Linked DNA regions of Homo sapiens: regions 2 and 3 are each reported to be linked to region 1. The links are microRNA targets in miRTarBase. Many come from high-throughput screens and were not tested one by one. Region 1 holds a microRNA gene; each other region holds the end of a gene's coding sequence.

Region 1 (3,248 bases):
CGACAAGATCACCCACCAGATGGAGCTGGCCATGCCGAAGAAGTAGACCAGCAAGAAGACCACGGTGCACAGCGCGGGGCCGGTGGTCTCGTAGCGCACGTGCTGCTCCACCGCGCCCAGCTCCTCGTACTCGCCGCGCCCGCCCGGGCCGCCCGCGCCCGCGCCCGCCGCGCCCGCGCCCGCCGCCGCGCCGCCCGCGCCCCCAGCGCCCCCCGCGCCCGGCGCGCCACCGCTGCACGCCACCTTCTCGTGGCCCGCCACCAGGCGCACTAGGTAGCCCACCGACACGAAGAGGTAGCAGGCCGAGAGGAAGATAATGGGCCGCTCCGGGTACTTGAAGCGCTCCATGTCGATAAGGAAGGTGGAGACGGTGGCGAAGGTGGACACGAAGCAGAGCACCGACCACAGGCCGATCCAGAAGACGGTGAAGGCGCGCTCGTCCTGGCTGAAAAAGGGGTTGTGGCAGGGCAGCGCGCAGTTAGCGATCTGGCCTGTCTTGACGCGGTTGTAGAGCGGGTGGCGCTCGCTGGACACGCTCACCATAGGCGCGCGGCACTGGCACCCGGGCTCGCAGGGAGCCGCGCCGCCGCCAGGGGGCCGCGCCTTCCCGCCACCGCCGCCGCCGCGAGCTGGGGGCGCCGCCGCGTCCCCGCCGCCACCGCCCCTGCCGCCGCCGCGGTGCGGGGGCCTGGCCCCCGGCGGGCGGCCGTGGCCGCTGCCCGAAGGCGGCTGCTCGCCGGGCGGCGGCGGCGGCAGGCGGCGCGGCGGGCTGGGCGCGGCGGTGGTTAGGTCGGTGCGGTTGTAGTCCATGCACAGCGTGTCAGGGTTGCCTTGCTCGGGCAGCCGGTCGCAGCGCATGCGGTCGGGCCAGGCGAAGCCGTACTGGCGCATGAGCGGCGCGCAGCCGGCCTTGGCGCGCTCGCACACCGAGCGGCAGGGCGGCAGCGGCTTCTTGTAGTCCTCTAGGCAGATGGGCGTGTACATGCTGCACAGGAAGAACTTGAGATCGGGCGAGCACTGGATCTCCACCAGCGGCCAGAACTGGTGCACCTCCAGGCCCGCCTCGTCTTGCGTGTCGTGGTTGAACTGATTGGGCATGTAGGTGTAGTTGTAGCCGATGCCCTTACACAGCGGCACGGTGATCTCTTGGCATGCCAGCTCCTTGGCCGAGGCGGCCGCAGCGCCGCTAGAGCGCTGCAGCAGCGCCAAGGCGGCCAGCAGCGAGGTCACTTCCAACAGGTAACCCCACTCCATGCTGTGCGCCTCGGCCCGGTGCCCTCGCCCTCCAGGCGGCGCGCAGAGGGGTGCCGGGGGGGGGGCCCACGAGAGAGCCGCAGACGGGTACAGCGGGTGATCTGGGGTCTCCCTTATGCTTCGCCCGGGAGGGGGGTCTGCCGATAATCTAACCCCTTCTAGGGGCGCGTCCGCAGCGGCGCGGCCCGCAGCCTGGGCAGGGCCCTTCCGCACTCCTTTCCGCCGCTCCGGGGGTTTGAAGGCGGCTGCAGGCGCGCGCCACAGTCCGTAGGTCCGCTCTGCTGGCCCCGGGTCGCGCTCAGCCCTCGCGGCGCAGAGCGGCCGGGCCTCGGCTCATCGTCCCGCGCTCGCTCGCCTCCTCTCCGCGCGCCCGACCACTTCTCCCCGCCGCGCCGGGCGGCGGTGACTCCGCCGGACAGAGAGGGCGGAGGCGCCGCAAGTTTCCTCTGGGGCCGCGGTGCGCAGTCAAGATGGCTGGGCCGGGCCGCTTGCCGCGCCGGGTCAGCCCTGGCGGCCACCACTCGGCCCCCGGGGGCTCATGCCCGCCCCCAAGGCCAAGCCGCCGCCGCCGCCGCCGGAGTTGGGGACCCGCCTCGGCCCAGGCCGCCGCCCTCTTTCTCCGGCGTCCGTCCTTCGTCCGTCCGCCGCCGGGACAGACGGACCCCCGCCGCCTGGAAAAGTCAGCGCCGCGCTCCGGCCGCAGTCGGGCGAGGTGCACACAGTCTCCTTCCTGCTGGACACCCAGGAGCAAATCCAGACCGGAAGGCGGAGCGGACACCTGAGTGGCGCGGCCCGCGCCCAGCCGCCGCCTCCTCCTCGGCGGGAGCAGCGCCCTTAGCCCAACTTCCCGGCTCCAGCCCCGCTCGCGCCGCGCTGCCGGCTCATGAATATTTATACAGCGCGGACTCGGTCTCCGCCCCCAGCCCCGCGAGCCAATCGCCGGGCGGTAGGGCGGAGTCCACGCGCTCCCAGGGCTCAGCCTTCCTTAAGGCAGTCCCCGAGTGTCCGCACTGCTGTGCGCGCTCTCTGCGGATGGAGAGTTTTGGTAACCTTGGGATTGACCGCAGAGACAGAGTGTTGGCCATGGCTGTCCCCATGGCGCTGAGTGCGTCGGAGGTCTTGGTCCCCTTACCCCGAGTCTGCCCTTGGGGACAGGGACGGGGTTTGGTGCAGCGCGCGCCTCCCCGGCGCGTTTCAAACCAGCCAAGCCCCTGCTGCCACCCTCCGCAAATGTGGGTGATCTGCAGGCGGCTGGGGTCTCGTGCTCCTCGGGGCGGCAGGAAGGTCTCGCAGCAGGCGAGCGCCGGGGAGGCCTGCCGGGGCTCGGCGCTGCAGAAGACCCGGGAAAGGGTGTCCTCCTTGGGGTTCTCAGAACGATGGTTTCTGAGACTTGGAGATGTGGGGGGTGTGGAGTCATTCTAAACTGGGGCTGGACCCGGGACGGCCCGGGTGAGATGCCCCGGAGCCCAGCCTTGGGCGCGCGAGGGGCGCGGGGGACAAATGCCCGCCAGAGACTCTCCTCCCGCCTCCGCTGCGTGACCTGGGGGAGCCTCAGTTTCCCCACCTAGAGAGTTGGGTGATCATAGCACAGATCTCCAAGGGGGCTTTGATAATTAGGTGAGATAAAATATAGGAAGCCCCGAGCCGCCGTGCTTTCTTAGGAAAAATCATTCAATTTCTTTCTAAAATTCAAAACAAACCTCGAAACTTATAAATAGGACAGGCTGGAAACTCTGGGGCTGGATTCCCTGTCTTCCCTTCGTTCTTTCAGGACGTCTATTCATCCATCCCAAGTTCACAGGCTTTTGCCAGAGCCTCCTTTTCTCTGGTGGGAGGCGGCGCTGCGCTCTGGCGTGGACTCCGCGACACGTATCTGCTCTCTGCACGAGGCCGGAGCCGGACCCGGGCTGCTTTTAGCAGCCGCTTGGGCCACCGCCAGCGAACGCTGCCCCCGCCGGCTCCGCCGCCACCTTAAGACGGGCCGGGAGGGGGGC
Region 2 (3,248 bases), not on the chromosome of region 1:
CCAACACTGGGGACTACAATTCAACATGAGACTTTGGTGGGGCCACAGATCCAAACCATATCAGAGCCCATTAGCAAGAAGGCCCTCCCTAGATTTGGCCTGTTGACTGCCCTTGGACTTCCTAGCCCCAAGAACCATAATACATAAATTTATTTTCTTTATAAATTACCCACTCCCTACTCTGAGGTATTCAGTGATAGCAACAGAAAACAGACTAATACAAATAACCATCATTTAACTTAGGTTAATATAAGATTTTTAAGTTACCAAAAATTAAATATAAAAATATTTAAAAGTAGACATCTTGGCTAGGTGCAGTGGCTCACGCCCATAATCCCAGCACTTTGGGAGGCCGAGGTGGGTGGATCACGAGGTCAGGAGATCCAGACCATCCTGGTTAACACGGTGAAACCCTGTCTCTACTAAAAATACAAAAAATTAGCCAGGTTTGGTGGTGGGTGCCTGTAGTCCCAGTTACTCAGGAGGCTGAGGCAGGAGAATGGTGTGAACCCAGGAGGCGGAGCTTGCAGTGAGTGGAGATCGTTGCCACTGCACTCCAGTCTGGGTGACAAGAGACTCTGTCTCAAAAAAAAAAAAAAGGAGGTAGACATCTTATAAAAATATCAAAAATACACAAACATCACATAACATAAAAAAACACAAAAATAAACACATAAAAACACACAAAATACAAAGAAACATACATTGAAAACATATGGCTCTTTTCAATCTTCTTTTTCTTTCTTGTGTTTCATATATATCAAGAAATTTATCTTTTCCTTGTGCATTTTGTTCTTCAGTTGAATTTACAGTTTTATGATCTTAAAGACACATAAGTGTTCTTTTTTTTTGAGTCGGAGTCTCGCTCTGTCACCCAGGCTGGAGTGCAGTGGCACGATCTCGGCTCACTGCAAGCTCAGCCTCCCAGGTTCACGCCATTCTGCTGCCTCGGCCTCCCGAGTAGCTGGGACTACAGGCACCCACCACCACGCCCGGCTAATTTTTTGTATTTTTAGTAGAGACGGGGTTTCACCGTGTTAACCAGGATGGTCTTGATCTCCTGACCCTGTGATCCACCCACCTCGGCCTCCCAAAGTGCTGGGATTACAGGCGTGAGCCACCATGCCCGGCCACACGTAAGTGTTTTGATTAGTAAATCCAGGTAGAAGTTGTATGTGTGAACTGTAAATAATGTTGACAACTCTTAAGAATTGTCTGTTTTAATTAAACCAAGAAACTTAAACTAGCTTTCTATTTACTAAAGATTATCTCAGATCACGTGACCTTGAAAAACATTTAGATGGGCTCCAGTTTTTCTAAGAAAATGCTCCATTTATGGAAGCAATTCTTTTCTTTCTTTTAACCAAATCTTTGCATAGGTACCAAATAACACATTTGTTTAGGATGAGAGCTGCCCACTGCCCCCGCCAAAAAAAAGTACTTTTATATACAAAAGTCCAAATTTCCAAAGGTATATGTACTTTAATTGTGACTTGAACTCAAGGTAAATAAATTAAATAATTAATAAATTAACCTTAGCTTACTGGACGGCCACCATCTTATATGCTGTTCCCTTGACTGAAATGTTGTGGGGTAAATGACTATATATGAAATGGGACTTATTGGAGGAATTAATGCATCTGATAATGGAGGTTGAGAAGTTCCACAACAGGCCATCTGCACAGCAGAGACCCTGAAATGCTGGAAGCAGGACTTAATCCAGCCCAAAAACCTAAGACCCAGGGAAGCCGATGGTGTAATTCTTAGTTCAAGGCCAAAATCCTTAGATCCTTCGGGAGGCCACTGGTGTATGCCCTGGAGTCCAAGGGCTAGAAATCCTAGACTCTGATGTCCACAGGCAGAAGAGTGTCCCAGCTCCAGGAGATCAGATGGATTTGCTTTTCCTTTTTTTTTTGTTTTCTTCTATCTTGCTCCCCAGTCTGTCGGACGGTGCCCCCCCAAATTAAGGGTAGGTCTTTTCCACTCAGTCCACCCGATCGCATGCCAATCCCCTCTGGAAACACCCTCGAAGACATGCCCAGAAATAATGTCCCAGAAATAATGCCTTACCAGTGTTCTAGGTGTTCCTTAATCCATTCAAATTAACACCTCCAATTGACCACCATGATAAGGAAACACACGGAGGCCAGCTCAGGGGAGAACCAGATTTTCCTTTGGCATGTGAGCCTCAGTCGGGCAATAATTCTTTCAAGTTTATTTTATTTTATCTTGAGACAGAGTCTTGCTCTGTGTCCCAGGCTGGAGTGCAGTGGTGCAATCTCAGCTCACTGCCTCGTGGGTTCAAGTGATTCTCCTGCCTCAGCCTCCCGAGTAGCCGAGAATATATGCACACACCATCACATCCAGTTAATTTTTGTATTTTTTTGTAAAGACGGCATTTCACGATGTTGGTCAGGCTGGTCTTGAACTTCTGACCTCAAGTGATCCACCCGCCTCAGCCTCCCAAAGTGCTGGGATTACAGGCATGAGCCACTACACCTGGCTAAGAATTTACTTTGTATACATGTTAAAAAAAAAAAAAACCTAATATGTATTAACTCCTAACACCTAAGAGGAAACCTCTGGTAAAAAGAGTCTTTCACTCCAAGGACACGGCAGAGCCTGTGCCATCTTCTAAGTAGATGAACTTTCCAGAGTCCACCAAGAGGTCCTGAATCTTCTCTCTTGCATGTCTCTCTTCCATCCTCTCCAAGGCATCCAGCAGGGTGTGGATCGAGGCGTTCCGTCCAGTTTTGTTGACCCATTTCATCAGCATTGCATACAAGGCATCCCCTGGGCCTGCTGTACCAGCTCTGACCACATCGATCTCATTTTTCGTGAGGTCCAGCTGCCTCATGAGCTGGTCCCAGGAGTCAAAGGGCACGATGTTTGCAAACTTGTCAAAGAACAGCATCAGAGCTGGGTGGAGAAAGCCACAGAGACAGCCAGATGAGTTGGGACTCAGTTCAGAAGGGGCAGAGGATCCCACATCAGGCCCAGAACCCAAGGAGAGAACCTGGAGAGCCCCCTGCATGGGCAAACCTGTTGCTCCATTGCCCACCCACCTCCCATCCACAGAGAGCCCACCCACACTGCCTGGCCTCTGTGGCCCCCAAGGCGCTGACGGGCGTCAAGGTCACCAGAGAATCTGCCCTCAGAGAGGGCTGAGAACCCACCTGGGGAGGATGGATTGACCCTACGGAGGCAGAAAGCAAAGTGGGTGAGAGCCCGAGGGAGGGAGGGAGAGT
Region 3 (3,248 bases), not on the chromosome of region 1:
TCAGATAATCCAAACTAAGTTAAAGTAATAATTATCTTCTGGAAGAAAAGACTAGGAAAACAGATGACACATTTTCCGGAACATGAATGATGTAGATATGTTTGCAGTTTGGAATGCAGAAGTGATTGTTACTTGAGGATCAAATGGCAGGACATCAAGAATTCCTGTGTCCAGATCCACAGTGCTCATATCTTGTCCATTCCATGTTTAAAAACATAAGCTGTGATTTCAGGTTCAGATGATTCTCCTGGGATTCTTGAGTTTACCTTATCACTACATTGGAGAAAATGTAAGTAAGTGGAGAGGAAAGGTGGTAATAAATCTTTTGGTTTTCTTTTGCAGAAGTGGACTGTAGAAGAAAGCGAGTGGGTCAAGGCTGGAGTGCAGAAATATGGGGAAGGAAACTGGGCTGCCATTTCTAAAAATTACCCATTTGTTAACCGAACAGCTGTGATGATTAAGGATCGCTGGCGGACCATGAAAAGACTTGGCATGAACTGAAACAGGCTTTCATTTCCACAGAATTCACAGGAGCATGGTTCCTAATAATAGCCCCTGATAGTCTGCTCTTTCTTTCTTTTTCTTTTTTTTTTTTTTTTGAGACAGAGTCTCGCTCTGTCACCCAGGCTGGAGTGCAGTGGCGTGATCTCGGCTCACTGCGACCTCCGTCTCCCGGGCTCACGCCATTCTCCTGCCTCAGCCTCCCGAGTAGCTGGGACTACAGGCGCCCGCCATCACGCCCGGCTAATGTTTTGTATTTTTAGTAGAGACGGGGTTTCACCGTGTTAGCCAGGATGGTCTCGATCTCCTGACCTCGTGATCCACCCAACTCGGCCTCCCAAAGTGCTGGGATTACAGGCATGAGCCACCGCGCCTGGCATCTGCTGTTTCTTTCAGAAGCTGGGCTGGGATGAGAATTTTGGGCAACCTCCTTCGACGTGGGGGAGGTCCCATTTCCACTTCATCACTGTTGGAGATCATGGAGCTAAGAAGCAGAGCCAAGTCCACCCATGTCCTTGGCAGAGATGACAGGCACACAGCTTGTGCAGTGCCAGAATATCATTAGCGTTTCCCTTCTTTAGTGGTTTGCTTAAATTTAAATCCCTGGTAATCTGTAGAACCTTCTCCTAGGAAATGGTGAAGTCTATTAGGAGCCACTTGTGACTCCATGACCTGTTAAAACCAGCAATGTGAGTATTATTTGGAGTAAATTTGTTCCACGTCAAGTTCTGGCCTTCTGATGCAAATGCAAAGGAACTTAGTCTGTTATGAACCCAGGTTGATGACAGACCAGTCCTTGTGGAATAAGATTCCCTTTAAAAACTCTTTAGCCAGTCGTGACATCAACCCTAGACCTGTCTGCCTTGGCATTTGCTGTCAACATCTGCTGGGCTATGTAGGCAGGTTAATCCTCCACTTCTCATGTGGTTGAACCAGTGTGTTTTTTGGTAAAATGGTGATTGTAGATAAGATTAGTTCCCTGATCCCCTGCCCCCTGTCCCCTGCCTCTTTTCCCAATTCCCTTCCTTATGCTGGACTTTTAAAGCTTAAAAAAAATCCGATTGAATATAAATGCCTAATTTCATTCTTTGTGAAATGGTTGCTTCCTCCTGATTCCCTAATTGTGCTGTGTTCGTGTCTTGCACTGGAATTCAACATTCCCTTCTCCTTTTGTACTGTGTTGTGCTTGCTGTCTCTCCCGGACACCCTTAAAGACTGTCTTTTTAGCAAAAAATTTCAGTAAAGTGTTTTCTGTAATCTTTTTTTAAAAGGTGAGAACTAATTATTGTCCATACTTGTAGCATTCTTCATTAAAGTCTTGCTTCTCTCAACTGTAAGTAGCTGTTTAATTGCAGCACAGCATGTATCCACAGAGGGAGGTAGCAAAATGTTAAACTTTGCTGAACTATTTTGATCAAGAAGCTGATGTCAGACTTTATTGAATGTTTTAATCCTTGGAAGCTATGTCAAACAGATGATATGGAAGTTTCCTCTTAACCTTTCAGTTTCCTCATATATCATTTCTGGGGACAAAAGAATTCCCCCTTTCTCACTTCTGAGTGAGTGAAAGGCAAGGCTTAAAGAAATGCTAAAGTTTTAAAATTCATCCATTAGGCCAGGCATGGTGGCTAATGCCTGTAATCCCAGCACTCTGGGAGGCCGAGGCAGGAGGATCACTTGAGGTCAGGAGTTCGAGACCAGCGCGGCCAACATAGTAAAACCCTATGTACTAAAAATACAAAAATTAGCTGGGCGTGGTGGCGGGTGCCTGTAATCCCAGCTATTCAGGAGGCTGAGGCACAAGAATCGCTTGAACTCGGGAGATGGAGGTTGCAACGAGCCAAGATCATGCCACTGCACTCCAGCCTGGGCAACAAAGCGAGACTCTATCTCAAAACAAAACAAAACTGGCTGGGAGCCATGGCTCACCCCTGTAATCCCAGCACTTTGCGAGGCCAAGAAGGGTAGGATCACCTGAGGTCAGGAGTTCAAGACCAGCCTGGCCAACATGGTGAAACCCCATCTCTACTAAAAATACAAAAACTTAGCCAGCCATGGTGGCAGGCGCCTGTAATCCCGACCTCTCGGGAGGCTGAGGCAGGAGAATTGCTTGAACTTGGGAGGCGGAGGTTGTGATGAGCGGAGATGGTGCCATTGCACTCCAGCCTGGGCAAAAAGAGCAAAACTCCTTCTCAAAAAAAAAAAAAAAAAGTTTAAAATTAAAAATTTTGAAAAATACAAAATTAGCCAGGCATGGTGGCAGGCGCCTGTAGTCCCAGCTACTCGGAAGGCTGAGGCAGGAGAATCGCTTGAACCGGGGAGGTGGCGGTTGCAATAAACCGAGATCGCACCACTGCACTCCAGCCTGGGTGATAGAGTGAGACTCCATCTCAAAAAAAAAAAAAATTCATCCATTAGTTACAAGTTGGAAACTTCATACAGCTTTATTACCTATTAACTGCATTTTGGGGTTTAGTACCTATTGTTCTTCTATCAACCAACCCCAACTGAAACCACAGGGAGAAGTTGAGAACTTGAGCTCCTTTCAGGCTAGCCGCCTTCTGCCTGCAGCTGGTTTGGTCTCCCTCTGAACCGGATTAGAATCCAGAAGCTTTTCTCCCCTTAACTCTCATGTGAGTCAATGGTGCTCTCCAGGTAGAGGAGTGAAACTGATGCATTTAGGGAAACAAAATATCCTAATCAGTGTTTCTTTTTATTTATTTATTTATTTATTTATTTATTTATTT

Evidence for each region. The annotated mature microRNA hsa-miR-4683 reads UGGAGAUCCAGUGCUCGCCCGAU and lies in region 1 at 1,006-1,028, opposite strand. An mRNA with a match to its seed (bases 2 to 7 or 8) in the 3' UTR can be bound and repressed. Matches are read on the target gene's strand: a 7mer-m8 pairs with bases 2 to 8, a 7mer-A1 pairs with bases 2 to 7 and ends in A, and an 8mer does both.
Region 2: miRTarBase lists TNFRSF10A as a target of hsa-miR-4683. Seed matches in the 3' UTR shown: 7mer-m8 at 1,881-1,887.
Region 3: miRTarBase lists TERF2 as a target of hsa-miR-4683. Seed matches in the 3' UTR shown: 7mer-m8 at 803-809.

The regions. Positions count from the first base shown.
Region 1 is chr10:35,640,176-35,643,423 of GRCh38, forward strand. MIR4683 (microRNA 4683) reads right to left here and starts at 1,077; the gene lies at 997-1,077. FZD8 (frizzled class receptor 8) reads right to left here and starts at 2,121. Exons shown (of 1, transcript NM_031866.3): 1 at 1-2,121. The coding sequence starts at 1,254. It overlaps LOC124902528 (zinc finger protein 469-like), which reads right to left and starts at 2,671. Exons shown (of 2, transcript XM_047426128.1): 1 at 2,455-2,671; 2 at 1,553-2,238. The coding sequence starts at 2,671. The coding sequence ends at 1,553. It overlaps LOC105376494 (a long non-coding RNA gene), which reads left to right and starts at 3,140. Exons shown (of 2, transcript XR_930820.3): 1 at 3,140-3,248. RefSeq lists silencers at 1-40, 580-669 and an enhancer at 310-469.
Region 2 is chr8:23,189,095-23,192,342 of GRCh38, forward strand. TNFRSF10A (TNF receptor superfamily member 10a) reads right to left here. Exons shown (of 10, transcript NM_003844.4): 10 at 1,358-2,919. The coding sequence ends at 2,600. Among named protein-coding and RNA genes, the nearest start is that of TNFRSF10D, 27 kb to the left of the region's middle.
Region 3 is chr16:69,354,151-69,357,398 of GRCh38, reverse strand. It overlaps TERF2 (telomeric repeat binding factor 2), which reads left to right. Exons shown (of 10, transcript NM_005652.5): 10 at 343-1,832. The coding sequence ends at 501. Among named protein-coding and RNA genes, the nearest start is that of TMED6, 4.0 kb to the right of the region's middle.